Linked DNA regions of Homo sapiens. The protein of the gene in region 4 purifies or fractionates together with the protein of the main gene of each other region. This does not show direct contact. Each region holds a gene or a part of one and is shown on either strand. Other genes may lie near its edges. The genes, in order: ARB2A, NTSR1, FBLN5 and ZXDB.

Region 1 (3,568 bases), on a different chromosome or scaffold from region 4:
TTATGTAGCATTTTACCAGTGGCTTCATAAATGAGCACTTTTTAAAATTAAAAATTAAAATAATTACAGACTTCCACAGAAATAATGAGTGAATAGCTTTTAAACAGTTGAAATCTCTTCCTAGATCACTCAATTATGCAGAGAGATACCGCTTGGAAGTCTCCGGATTCAGGGCCTCAGTCTGATACTTTAACATTGTTAATGATAATTCTTTAGTCTGTAATAGTAGGTCATTGCTATGGTTACTCTACAATGGTGCAACACTTTGCTTTCCCCTTCAGCTATTCGCTGAGACCTGGTAACCACATTTGTTGCCTAGCAACAGTTTTGTGACAGTATCACAATCTAGGAGTTACAACAATAAGGATGCTATGGCTGCTGTCGGCCAGAGAGCAGAAAGCTACAGTCTGTGCCTGACTTAGCTGTGGGAGCTGGCCCTACTAGAGAACCCCTCTCTCTTTATCAGTGCCCTCCCAAGGATTCTCTCTATCCTCCTTTCCTCTGCAGACTGGCCTCATGAACTTGAATTTGAAACTAAGACCCAGTATTAAAGTCATATCCCCCAACTCAGACTAAAAATGAGGTCATTTTATTTGCTTACTCATTTTGGGCAAAATTCATTGTTACTCAATAGGAAGGAGGGATGAGTGTAGGTTTATCTTGTTAAATCCTAAAGTGCTAGGTGGATTTTGACAATTCTTCATAGAATTCTTGGGGGAAAATTATATATATATGCCTGCTTGCATCAATAGGTGTTATAATACATAACATCTAGATATTATTATATTTTTACTGATTTATTCAAATGACAATCTTAAAGGATTCTTTTGAATTTGGAGGCATTTATATTTTCCAAACCTAACTGAGCAGTTCTACATATGCTCAGACATACCTGCTTTAAATGATATTTGCGGGTAGATCTAGGAGGACCAGTTTCTGGATAGGGTTATCAAATGTGTGTCTCTATTCTATAGTGTTTGCAACCCTAGTTTCACTTCAGTAATAACTACACAGTTGCACTTATAATGGTAGGACATTTTAAAATCAATTGTAATTCATTTTGAAAGACCATTCTCAGATGCATACTACGTGGCAACACCCACCCCCAAATACAATAAGCCAAAAAAAAAAAAAAAGGTGTTAATTGTCTCTTTTCGTAACCATTTCCCAAGCTTACAGCCACATTTGGCATTTCCTCCATAGTGATCACACTTACACCTACTAGTGTTACTAAGGCTATGATCAATTTGTAAGCTTTCTCAGGGAATTCCCCTCATAATTCCTCCCACCCCTTGAAACCAATTCAATCTATGAATCTAGAGGGACCTAAGGAGTCAACGGTCTGAAGCAATTTTAACTCCTTTATTTCTTCTTTACGGGTAACAATCCTTCTGAAGGATGAACAGATTTCCCTGGTGATAAAATCACTACAAAAGCTTTTTAGTTTTAGCTTTTGATGACTCTCTGCTTGATTAGTCCTGGACTGAAAAGACCAGAGTCCCTGAGATAACTGAATACTTGTACTGGCTCTCAACATTTACTCTTGTAATTTAAGAGTATAAATAATGAGAATGTGTGCTTCTGTCAGACGAAGGGAAATTGCTAGGAGTAAAGGTAATAAGGTAGGTTAGCAACTGAATTACAGAGAATGGGGTGGAAGGGAGAGAATTCTCCCTAAACTAAGGAATGATAACATGAATATGTAATATAAAAATGTCTTTTCTAAATTTTTGGAAGTAGATTTTAAATGATTTTTAGAATACCATTCAGAAGTTGAATAATTACATGTCTAACTTGGACTGCATATATACATTTCAAGAATATGTTTGGAGACCATTTTCAAAAATTTAGGTCCAAAGTTCAGTGAAAATATTTACAGATGAATATGAAACTCTATCCATGACAATGTTCAGTGAATGGAAACTTTTGAGAGCAGGTTTCTAGTACTTAAAAAATACATCACTTTAGGGGACATTAAGTGGGATGCTTTTTATTACATCAGTACAGAAACACTAGACCATTACATTATTTGTTCATAAAAGGATATAAAAGGTAGAAGTTTAGGTCAATCAAAAAAGCAGCCATTTATTAATAAAATGCAATGATGTAGAAATCACAGGGAAACTAGTTTATTTAGCACTAACCTTGTCATTTGAAGGGGAAAAACATGGTTTTATGGTTAAGGTCTAGTCTTTTCACTACCACCACTTTACCCTTATCAGAAGTCTCTACTTTTCAAACCAATAATTTTCCTAATTTAGAGAGTTTCACAAAATATAAGGAGTAAAATGTTTTTCCACATTAAATATCTGCCAAGTTCTCAAGGAATGATTTTGGTATCATTTAGGAGTGGCAGGCTTGGTCTAACTGGATAATTCACCTTTGGAGTGAATTCAGTTTCCTAGTCTATAACATCAATTCAGTATAAAAGTAAAATGTAAAGGATCACAGCACTTCATTACAAAAAAATACCTTTGCTCAGTTTCAATCAGTGGTTCTTAATGGAGATGATAATGGCCTCTGGAGGCATTTTGGAAATTTGCAGGGATATTTTCGATGGTCAAGATGATTGGAAGGTGTTATTGGTATTTATTGGGAGAAGGACAGGGATAGTGGATATCCTGTAATTTGCAAGGCAGTACAGAATTGTTCTGCATCCCACATGATTTTCAAATGTTCAGCAGCTATTCATGTAGTTGAAAACCTGTTTATAATTATATGGATTAGAATTTAAATATGTTTTACAGATAATCTTAAAATACTTTTTGCATGATTTTAATATATACTGAATTTTCCAGGAATACAACTACCGTGTAAATCGAAAGGGTCATGCATTTTATGTTTTTCAGAGTCTTACCAAGAGTGGTTTACCCTATGAAAAAAATATCATAACTGATGGCACCATGCCCATGGTACTTGAGGTGCCAATAAGCATACCTGTATCAGCCCGCATCTGTAGCTGTCAAATTCATGATGATTCCATGCATAGGACCAAGTATCTGACTACTTTATTATGTCTTCTCATGTAGGTTTGCCTGAGCACTTTAAATATTGAAATCCATATTATTTTATTATGAATTACTTTTATTCCTTCTACATGTTAACTAGAGCATTACAAAGATTAACAATCTCGTAAGTAGGTAGATTATGTTATCTGTAGAATTTATTTCAGGACAGTAAAAGCACGGCATAATATTTGTTATAATAGTAGCTAATCAAAGGTCAGCTTAAATAAAAATGAATAATTATTTCTTACTATATTAGAGATTAATTCTTCCAATAATCTGAACCCTACTCTAGCTATCTCTCTTATCCTTGTACAGAGCAGAAAATACCTATTTTTCATTTTTCTTATGTTTCTTCCACAAATGCCATTTGTCAATGATGTTATTCATTGTGAAGTGACTAAAAGGCAGGGGATCGTCCAATGAAAATACTACCCTGAATATCCTTGACTTATCACTTGTTTTAAAAAATGAACTGTAGCAAATTTTAAAGGAGTGAAAATAGCAAAAGTGGTGAAAAAGATTAGAAACTCTAAGAATCAAGAATGAGACTATAAATCATA
Region 2 (3,568 bases), on a different chromosome or scaffold from region 4:
CCCAGCCTTGTTGCTCAGAGGCTGCGAGGCAGATTTGGCCAAGTCACGCTACGGCCGGCCACAGGCACTCGTCCAATCGCAGAGGCCTGTGACGTATCAACCGTAGGACAGCGGCCCCACGCCCTGCAGACGCCATGCTGGCCGAGCGTTGCTGAAGGCACCCTTGGAGAACGTAGTTTCCATTTTTCTTTAAAGGGCTCAGCTGCGTGCCTGGGAGCAGCTGATTACAAGGGTGCTCCTCCATCCGATGCTGATGACCTGGGGCTTTCCAGGGCCCCGATGCCAGCTGCTCTGTGTGCTTGAAAAGAACATTCCTCGTAGGAGAGGCCTTGGCTTCCCCTGACCCCTGCCCCGCCATTTGCCATTTTATGAAAGGTTTCCCCGGAATTAGGGGGTTTACGGTCCCCACGTGGGCTTCTGGGCCATTGGCAGATCTGGGCAAACATCCACGGTTTTCAGATGGTGATGTCTGGCTGAAGAGGGGCTGGATACCCTGAGCTAAGTGTCTCCCTCTCAGTGACCATGTTTGGAAGTGTTGGGGCAGTGGCCAATCAAATGGCCCCTCTTTCCAAAACAGGGGTCCTTTCCTGCCCCAGCGTCTCCTACGAAATTTTGGCCTGGGCACTTGCAAACAGAAATTGTGTTTAGAAATGAGGTGGTTCAGTGATAACACTTTGGAGCAACTTACAATAATCCTCCCTGAAGCCAGCTGGGCATTTTCCTAGTGTGTAGCTGGGACTGGGAGTTGATGGTGGAGTGGGCAGGGCTCTCAGGTCAGCAGACAGGACCTGGTGCCCAGGACCCTCCCAAAGGCCCCAGACCTGGCCCTGGTGCCAGCAGGGTGACTGGGAGGAGGAGCTGGGGGCTCAGGGACCTACGGGTGCCCCTGGGTTCCCCTGGACTGTCCTACCCATCCTCTAACCCACCCGCACACGTGGCCCCACACGGGCAGATGGCCCTTGCTTCTTGGATGGTCCCCCATGGCCCAGGCCCAACCTCCAGCTCAGCTTTGACCTCGGCTGTGACAGGGTCCCAGTGGCACACGATCTGTGTGGCAGGGCTCAGGGCTGATGGCCCAGATGGTGGGTCATCAGAGTCCCATGCTTATCTGTCATCTGTCCATGGCGTGTATACTGAACGTGTGCACACATGTGTGTGTCCAGGGGCCCACAGTGGCAGGGGCCTGGGACTTCAGGTGTCCGATTCAAATCAGATGAGGTGGCTGCAGCCTTTGAAACAGTTTTAGAGACCCGCCCCTGACTATGGCCACACACGAAAGCAAACCCTCCCAGCCTCACAGGCACGAGTCCATTAGACCCTCCTGAGCAGCCGTGAGGACTCCTTTCATCATTGCCATTTTCTGCACCAAGGGAGTCCTGCTCCTGCAGGCTCAGCCTCCCTGCCTCCTCCTTGTTTTTTCTGAAAGCCTTCTTCATATTGAGTACAAACAGCAGTGCTCTTCGCTGGGTTAGACCCCAACTCAGAGGGCACCTGCTCCCTCCCAGGGGCAGACAGGGGCCTCAATTTGTGCAGGAGGCGCTGGTGTCCTACAACCCCTGCTCCAGAGGCGTCCAGGAGCAGACAGATCACAGGGCGACTTGGCAAACACCCCAGCCGTTCAGGGCTGGCAGAATTCCGGGAAAGGAGAGGCGGCTGAGACAGGGAAGGAGACAGGTTCCAGTGAAATCTGGCCATGGATTATTTCAGGGCTCCTGTCCCGTGCCCCAGGCTGTGCCCAGCAACCTCCACAGGCAGCATCCTTGTTCTTAGGAAGGATACAGAGGTGTTTAGAGTGTGGAGTCTGCAACTTATTCTCAAATCATTCAGAAAGAAAGGTGTGGCCAAATGGAAGGAGAGCAAGCAGACAGTGAATCAAGGGAGGAGACTGCTTGCGGGTCATGCGGCATTGGGCTGCAGCCCTGCCACAGGCAGCTGAGTGTCCTGGGCATTCTTCCTGCAACTGTTCTGCAGTAGGAACTTTTTCAAGTTAGAAAGTTGCAGAAGGCCGGGCGTGGTGGCTCACACCTGTAATCCCAGCACTTTGGGAGGCTGAGGCAGGCGGATCACCTGAGGTCAGGAGTTCAAGCCCAGCCTGGCCAACATGGCGAAAACCCATCTCTACTAAAAATACAAAAATTAGCTGGGCGTCGTGAAGGATGCCTGTAATCCCAGCTACTTGGGAGGCTGAGGCAGGAGAATCGCTTGAGCTTGGGAGGCGGAGGTTGCAGTGAGCCAAGATCACACCACTGCACTCCAGCCTGGGTGACAACTGTCTCAAAGAAAAAAAAAGTTGCAGAAGAAGTTCTTCAAGGGGTCCTTAGGAACAGCCTGCTCCACTCTGACCTCCCGTGAGGACGGGAAGGGGACCCACGCCACGCAGCTGTGGGCAGCTCTGGCTCTGGCCGTAGCGGCCACAGTGTCCTCACCTGCAGCGCAGGGCATAGAGGGCTGTTGGTGTGGGGCCAAGAGTCACACACTTCCTCCAGTCTGAGCCCATGACCCTTTAGAGGAAAGGAATGGAGTATTTTTCCTGCCTTTTCTATTCAAACGGTACTTTAGAATAACCCAAGAGTAGATAAAAGGCAGTGTCTCAGCCCAGAAATGTTCATCAATAAGTGAAGAAGGAGCAGGATGGTCAGAATACCACCCATCAGGTGCAATCCTCATAAATCAATGGATGTAGGCATGGATTCTTGACAGCTGCTGGGGTCACGAAGGGGAGAGAGTTAGGTGTGAGGTGAGCCCTGGTGTGCACACAGCCTCGTGGCATCCTTGGAGCAAAGCCATTGAATCTGAATCTCATGGAGCCCCTGATCCAACACACAGGACACACCAGGGACAGAGGAACAGGGACAAATGTACCATTAGGATGCAGCCAGCAAAACCCAGACCACAAGAAACAGCTCCAAATAAACAACTCGTTCTGTTCTACAAACAGTGAGGGAATCGGAGACGGTGGCCTGGTTTCTTAGCAAAGACTCGGACAAGTCAACCTGTCGCAGAAAGCCGGCACCAAAGCTGATCATTCTTCCTGCCAAGAAACAGCAAAAAAGCCTAGGTAGTGAATAGCTACAAATTCTTGTTGTCCAGAGCTGTTGTGGGTATGGTTTTCAAAATGGTCCTGCTCTCTTAGAGGTACATGCGGAAATGTTTACAGACAAAATGATGCAATGTCTCAGATTTACTGAAGCGTGATCTGGGGGAAGGGGCTGTGGGAGGGCTACAGAGGAGACAAGATTGGTCTTAAGTCTGTAATCATGGAAAGTGAGTGTTGATGACATTTTTGGCATGTTTGAAAAATTTAGTAATTAAAAGTTTTCAAAAGGTTAAGGTGCTATATGTTGGAAATAAAGAATTTGGCGTATGAAATCACCGTTCAGATGGTGACTCTGAGGCTGTGGGGGGTGAGAGGGCAGGACAGGGAGGTGACCTTGGCCTTGTTCCAGGCACCAGACCTGCCTGTTGGAGCCAGGTGGGAGACGGCAGGGTGAGGACGTGCAGACATGCGGGTCCACCTCTGTACCCCGTAACCCCGTTTCCCAGATGAAGCAGAGGGCAGAGCCACCTG
Region 3 (2,960 bases), on a different chromosome or scaffold from region 4:
CCACACACAGCATCAGCAGCAAGCCGTGTATAGTGCCTGTATGTGCCAGACACTATTCTAAGTGCTTTCTATACAGTAACCCTTTAATCTTCACAAGAATCCTATGATATAGGATGGTTTTATCGTCCAGATTTTACAGATGAGAGCACTGAGGCACAGAGCTAAGCAACCTGCCCGACTAGTCTCACAACTAATAAGCACCAGGGCAGGATTTGAACCTAAGCAGCCTGGCACCAAAAATCTGTGCTGTTATACTTTTCTTCAGAATGGGGAGGTATGCTTTACCTACTCTTCCAGCTTTGGGGTCTCAGATGAAATGGAGATCACAAGAAAAGTCTAACATCCAGTTACAATAGAAAGTATTCCAGAAATAGCAGTTATGATTGTATAGATACTGTTGTGGCCACTGCTACTGTTGCTGCTACTGCTGCAAGGAGGCTGGGAGCTGCTGGGCCATGGAGAGCTTGGGAATGCTACCCAGGGGACTGGAGCATCGTGTGGGAGGTGGGGCTGGATGGCCATCCAGGCTCTCACACCCTGAGATTCATTGATTTGATTATAACCACATGGGAGGAGCTTCATCTCACCCCGCAGGCAAACCACACACACACACTTGCATGCACACATGCACACACTTATGCCCACATGCGTACGTGTACACACACACACAAGCCCATTCATAAGCCTTATTGGCTGCCTGTCTCTCACTGAGCCCTAGAAAGAGGACTGATGATTGGCTTTGGCCAGGTGGCTTGGGGGTCATAATTAGGGCCAGAAGAAGGAGCAAGGTCATGGGGTTCAGACTGTGCCAAAGTGCACTTACTCCATGACACACGTGGATCAAGTGACAGGGCCCATGGAAGCTGGCCTGCTACAGCGTGGCTGCTTGCCACAGGTCAGACCATGCCATCCCACAAGTTGATTAGAATAAACCTGAGTGTGTTTGGGATCAGGGCCAAGAAGACACACAGCTGGTGGGCTGTTGGCAGCCGACTCCCAGCGTGGTCAAGTCCACTGGCGTTCAGTCATTCGTGTGCATTCTTCCGTTACCAGCGTGCATTCAGCACCACTGCATATGAGGCTTCAAGTCAGGCACTGAGCGTTGAGAAACAAACAGGATGTGGTCTCTGCCCTGGAGGAACCCACACACACCTTAGCGGAGAGGGGGAAAACAACCTAGCAAACACAACACAAAGTGGCGATTCTCAAGTCAAGTCAAGACCCATGGGATGGTGAGTAAATGGAGAGGTACAGAGACCTTATCAGAGAGTGTAGTGGTTAGAAGCATGATTTTTGGAGCCATAAAGTCTAGTACCATGCAGTAGTTTGGTGGCCTTATGTAGTATCCCTAACCTACTTAGAGCATAGGGTTGTGAAGATTAATTAAGAGGTGTAGGAAAGGTTGTAGCCAGATGCCTGGCATCATAACCACCACCGTCATCACTGTCGCCACCATCCTCCTCCTCCTCATCTTTTCGCACCACCAAGCCTACTAATGCCCACGGGCTCTCAGGGGTTTATTTCATTAATGCCCTGGCTCTGCCCTAAAAGCCGAATGTGGAGGTGGCTGTCCTCAGCTCTTGTGGCAGGTACTTGAGCTCTTCCAGGTGCTTGTGGGTAGGGTGGACCCAGGTGGAGGCCGGACTCACCAGCTTCTGCAGTTACTTCCAAATGGGAGAGTCTAGGATTTCAAATGGGATAGTTGAGGATTCTTTCGTACTCAGGAGACATTTACCAGGAGAGCCCAAAGGAACAACTTGGAAGTTTGCACTTGCCCCCTTCTCCCTTCCAGACCTTGGGCTCTGCAGATCTCCCTCTGGAGGGCTGTCCCTAGCTCAGGGTTCTCAACTCTTGGTCTTTGTTCACGCAGTGAAAGCTGGTGAGATATTTGTATATGTAAAGGCTGCAGGCATTTCCTTGTGTGGCTTTACCCTCTGAAGCCCTGGCCCAGGGCTCAGGTTTCGTAAGGGCTGACAAGGAAGTCCAAGAAATCTGCGTGAGGAGGTGCCAATAACGTGGATGCTGACGGGAACAGGAGGAACCAGTGCCAAGAGGAAATTGTGTGGCTGTCAGGCTGCCGATAGCCTCATGGATAGGGGAGGTCCCAGCGCCTGGCCTGCACCTGTCTGCCAGCCCCACCCTTGTCTTACTTGTGGTGGCTCTTGGGGATGTTCAGAACTTTATGGGGCGCCCTCCTTTTATGGAGACAGATAAAACATCTAGTGTAGCTTTAAACCAGCTAGGTTCCTTTATTTTGCAGAGACTGTTGCTTGCAGCTTCTGGGCACAGGGCTGGGCTCTGCAGTGTATGGGAAGTGATTGTCCAGCCCATCCCTTTTCTTCTTCACACTGTTTCCTCTAACAGTGCCAATATCTGTCCCTTGCACTGACCGCGAGCATCTCTCATTAGGTGGGTGCTAGGAAGAAGTGAAACACACATCAGCCTCTTCTGATACCTGCTGTGCAGTGAAAAAAGCCTGGGGCTTGGGGTCAGAAATACCTGAATGGAAGCCCTTGGTTCTGCCCAAGACTAGCTGGGTAACCCTAAGCAATTATTTAACCTCATGGGACCTCAGTTTGCTTACTTATAAAACGGGGAAGTAATGAGTCATACCTTTCATACAGCACTTAGACAAGGACAGCCAGGGCCCCCCCACCTGGGTCCTGTGCTTTTAGATCAATATTTCTCAATACTTAATGTGCACACAAAGCCCTGGGGATTGTGTTAAGCCACAGATTCTGGCTCAGTAGATCCTAGCCCTGAGATTCTGCATTTATAAGAAGCTCCCTGGTGATGCCCATGCTGCTGGTCCAGGGACCACACTTTGAGTGGCAAGGCCTTTCAGGGTTTTATGAGAATTTTTTTTTTTTTTTTTAGCTGGAGTCTCGCCGTTGTCCAGGGTGGAGTATAGTGGTGCGATCTCTATTCACTGCAACCTCTGCCCCCCAGGTTCAAGCAAT
Region 4 (4,280 bases):
ATGTATGTTTGCCAAAAAAAGAACATGTCAGGGCTGGGGGGGCAGTTAAAAAAAAACGCATGCCACATCACTGAAAAACGTCCTCATATTTTTCAAGGAAAGAAATGTATTATCAAGGAATCACAGAGCAGAAAGACCTTAAAAGCAATCTATTCAAACCACCTCAATTTATAAATAAGGAAATTAAGGCTCAGATAGGTTAACTGACTTGCTCAGGGTCACACAACTTGTCAGTTCCAAACTCAAGATCAGAATTTAAATCTCCAAACTTGTAGTCCAGGGCTGTGCTCTTTTTGCAAACCAAAAAGAAATGACTGCACTTAAATATTTAGTCCAGAATATCCTCAAAATTGACTGTAATAAAAGTAAGCCACATGATGAGGAATGAATAGAGTTGGTTCATACCAAAAATGAGCTGCCAGTCACAGTGATAAGATCTGTTTCTTTCTGAGAACCATGGTTTCCTGCTGCATTGGGGAATCCAAACTGGGTTTCTCCCTCCTGTCCAAAGAAGTCAGAGTCAGGATGTACGTTCCACTCCGCTTTGGTTGGTGTCAGTAGTTCTGAGACACTGTTTTCACAAAGGGTGCTCGAAGGAGTCAGAGCATCTGTGTCCACTGTTAGCTTACTGCTGGGTGTCAAAGCCTGAGGCTCTGGACTGGAGTTTTTCATGGCCAAAGAGTCCAGAGATCCCAATGGCCCCACACTTACACTTGAGACCTCATCCATATTTAAGGAGCTCTGCTGAAAACCAGTGGCCGCCGTTCCAAAAAAGAGAGAGGTATCCAGACTTTGAGGAGGGTCGCTGGTGGCCATCAAGGACGGAGGGTCCACAGCCTGCCCTACGGAATTATTATTATTAGCAGGGAGGTGCCCTGCCAGAGTCGAGCTCACAGAAGCCACATCAATAGTCAAGATTCCAGAGTTCACCAATGCTGTGTCCAGCAATGCAGCAGAAGTACTGTCAGGTACATCAGAGAAGAGAGACACTATCTCTGCATCACTGAGATCATTCTGTCTCTGGCTGGTAAGTTCACTGCTGGGTGTGAGAGAATTTGCTGCTTCTAGCTGAGCTAAGAGATCCTGGCCCACCTTATGCCTTTTAACCATGTGCGTCTTCATGCTGTGCTTGGATGTGAAGAGTTTATTACAAGAGGAGATCGGGCAACGGCTTTTCCAAGTGTCCACATCCTGCAGGTGTTTCTTGGAGTGAATGTAGAGGCTACTGCGAGCAGAGAACCTGGCACAGCAGCCTGCCACAGGACACACGAAAGGCTTTGTGCCCAGGTGGGTTATGCTGTGGCCTTTCAGATGTTCCGCCCTCGTGAAAGATTTCCCACAGCCTTCCACAGGGCACATGAACCTCCGGTCATCGTCGTGCTTTCTTTTGTGCCTTAAGAGTTTGGACATGCTAGTGAAGTTCCAGCCACAGCCATCAAAGTCACAAAGGAAAGGTCTCTCGCCGGTGTGACTCCGCAGGTGAATTTTCAGCCTACAAGCCTTGTCATATTGTTTGCTGCAGCCAGGAAAAGAGCAGGAAAACAGTTCCTGTTCCCTGAAATGGGCGCGGTTATGGGAAAACAGAGCACTCACTGTGATAAATGTCTTCTTGCAGCCAGAAAACGCGCACTGGTAAGGCCTCTCCGGTTCGAAGTGGCTGCGCTGGTGGGCGCTGAGTTTGGCCTGCGTGGGGAAGCTCTCCTCGCACACCTCGCATTTGAATGAGTTCTCCTGCTCATGGCCCTTCATGTGCGCCTTGAGGTTGTACACTGTGGTGAAGCTCTTGCCACAGCCCTCTGCCGGGCAGCCAAAGGGCCGCAGTTTGTCGTGCGACTGCAGGTGCCTCTTGAGCTTGTAAGAGGTGGTGAAGGTCCAGCCGCAGCCACCCAGGGGGCATTTGAAGGGCCTCTGGCCCTGGCTGCTGCTGTGCGTCAGCAGGTGCACCTTCAGCTGGTGCTTCTTGGCGAAGGTTTGCCCGCACTGCGCCTCGGGGCACAAGTACAGCACCACGCCTGGGCCGGAGCCCAGCGGTCCGCGGGGGCCCAGGGCGGCGGCCGGGCCCTCCGCCTCCTCCTCAGGCGCCGGAGCTGGCGCGGGTTCGGCCGGCTCAGCTAGCAGGAGGTCTGGCGGCAGCTCTGGGCAGTCACCCGGGTGCGCGGCATGCGGGAACCCAGCTTGCGGGGCGATCAGACACCCGGGCTGCTGGGCAGGAGCGGCCCCTGGCTCCCAGGCGTGTGGTGGGGGCGTGGCCAGGGTGAGGACGCCGTTCTCAAAGCGCAACAGCAGGTCCTGGTTGTGGATAGTGACTGTGCCCGCGAAGGCCGCGGCGGGGCCGGGGGCGGAGATCGGGGCCGGAGTGGGAACCGCGGACAGGCAGCGGGGGCCTAGCGCAGTGGGCCCCGCGGGATTCGCGCCGCTCTCGCCCCCCTGGAGCCCCGGGCCCTCCTCGGCCTCCTCCCTCAACACAGGCCCTGCGGCCTGACCGGAGCCCGCGGTCTCCACGTCGCCACCCACCGGGTCAAGCAGCACCAGGAAGAAGTCGTCGCCGCCGCCGCCGCCGCCGCCGCTAGGTTGATCGGTCCTCGGCGCCAACAGGCTTGGGCCAGGGCCCCGTGATGCCGTGCTGGCCTCCTCGCGCCGCCGCCCGGGCCCGCCATCTTGGGGGCCCCGGAGCAGCAGGAGGCGGCGCGTGGGGACCTGGCCAGCCGGCGAGTCAGGGCCTCGGTGGACTCGGCCGCCACCCGCGGGGATACCGCCGCCGCCGCCGCCCTGTAGTGTCCCGCGAGCCGGGAGCAGCTTCGGGATTTCCATCTCTGCGTCCGAGAGGCTCGGCTGGAACCAGAGCCGAGGAGGAGGCGCGATCCCGCCCCCTGCCGCGGGCCTGAACACGTTCCTGAAAGGGGAAAAAAAAATGTGCAATGCGCAGAAACTGGCCCTATCAGATATTAAAACGTATTTAACGCCACAGTGATTTAAATATTCTGGTACTGGGTCTCTGGAACAGAATAGAAAGCCCAGAGGTAGAGCCTGGTATGCATAAATACGTTCTACAGTTAATATAAGTAAGTAATTAAGGGGGTCTTCTGAGGTAATGGGGAAATGACGACAGCTTGTTCAGTAATGCTGTGGAACACCTAGGTATCTATCCGCTGGAAGCAATTTTAATCCATGACTCATTGTATATACCCAAATAAACACACCCCAGCCCCTCCCAGTGTTAGATATGTTGCTTCGTACTTTCTGTGTGTTAAAATTTGCTGGCTGGCTGGCTGGCTGGACTGATGGATGAAAGACAATTCCTGAGAGAAAAAACTGTCTCTGTGTCAGCATTAAACCACCATAGCGCTGGCAGTTCTGCTGAAAATGTCCTTCCCCTTCCCACCTCCCCGCGGGACAACTTCCATATTCACAATTATCTTGAGCAAAGTCTTCGGTACAATTTGCCGCATAGTTCAAATTTTGTCTTGCTGATACAGACATTAGAATGAGTGAGAGATGCGGCCAAAACAGGTTAGCACTCTTCAGCCTAGAAATTCAAAGTCTGGAGGATGAAACAATTTACACTGAAATCTGGAAAAAACCCAACCTTCTCCTGGCTTCTCCCTATACAGTGCACAACCTAAACCAACTTTTGCCCTTCCACCATCGGTTGTACTGTGATAAATTTCATGTCTGCTCTCACAGCACAATGAGGGCATTCATTCCTCAGTTTACTCTGCCTTCTCCAGCACGTGGAGGTCTCTGGGCAGGAGTTTCAGTTAAATGTGTTTAGGTTAAATCCTGAGTCACTGCAATGGATTCTGCCAAGTAAAAGGCACAGACGATCTTGTCCAATCAACCTGGTGTACCTGTTCACATTTAAGTGTGGTGGCCCAGGCTTGCTGGGCCTGTGGTGCCTAATGATCTTATTAATGATGATGACAATCCTTCATTTTGTCCGTTACGACTGAGTTGGGAATTGACACAAATATAGGGTGAAATATCTGAGATAAGAAAGCTTAGAGTAATGACTAGATTGGTGGTGGTGGGGGAGCGGGGTGTAACCTGTTGTTTAAATACTCCCAGCTCTCTCGCCCTCTTTTAATGACAGTGGACACTTGGTCTCTTGAAAATCAAGCTATTCATCCATAACTATTTGAACCTCATCAAAATGTCTACTCCACATACTTTTCTTTCTATTACTTTTTCTGGTGGAAGCATTTTTCAAATCTGAGGTATAGAAGAGTGCATAAAACATATTTGTATCGTTTAGATTATTTTACAAAAGCAGACACCTGTGT

The links.
Region 1: the proteins of ZXDB (region 4) and ARB2A purify together in Homo sapiens (affinity purification with mass spectrometry; one large-scale study listed by BioGRID and IntAct). This does not show direct contact.
Region 2: the proteins of ZXDB (region 4) and NTSR1 purify together in Homo sapiens (affinity purification with mass spectrometry; one large-scale study listed by BioGRID and IntAct). This does not show direct contact.
Region 3: the proteins of ZXDB (region 4) and FBLN5 purify together in Homo sapiens (affinity purification with mass spectrometry; one large-scale study listed by BioGRID and IntAct). This does not show direct contact.

What each region holds. Positions count from the first base shown.
Region 1 is NC_000005.10:93,622,135-93,625,702, forward strand, and holds part of ARB2A (cotranscriptional regulator ARB2A isoform 1 precursor), read right to left. Parts: intron 1-3,568. UniProt on the Homo sapiens protein: Plays a role in the regulation of alternative splicing, by interacting with AGO2 and CHD7. Seems to be required for stabilizing protein-protein interactions at the chromatin-spliceosome interface. May have hydrolase activity.
Region 2 is NC_000020.11:62,711,815-62,715,382, forward strand, and holds part of NTSR1 (neurotensin receptor type 1), read left to right. Parts: intron 1-3,568. UniProt on the Homo sapiens protein: G-protein coupled receptor for the tridecapeptide neurotensin (NTS). Signaling is effected via G proteins that activate a phosphatidylinositol-calcium second messenger system.
Region 3 is NC_000014.9:91,871,769-91,874,728, reverse strand, and holds part of FBLN5 (fibulin-5 isoform 1 precursor), read left to right. Parts: intron 1-1,053; coding exon of another isoform or gene 1,054-1,232; intron 1,233-2,960. UniProt on the Homo sapiens protein: Essential for elastic fiber formation, is involved in the assembly of continuous elastin (ELN) polymer and promotes the interaction of microfibrils and ELN. Stabilizes and organizes elastic fibers in the skin, lung and vasculature.
Region 4 is NC_000023.11:57,590,580-57,594,859, reverse strand, and holds the start of ZXDB (zinc finger X-linked protein ZXDB), read right to left. Parts: upstream 2,850-4,280; 5' UTR 2,812-2,849; coding exon 400-2,811; 3' UTR 1-399. UniProt on the Homo sapiens protein: Cooperates with CIITA to promote transcription of MHC class I and MHC class II genes.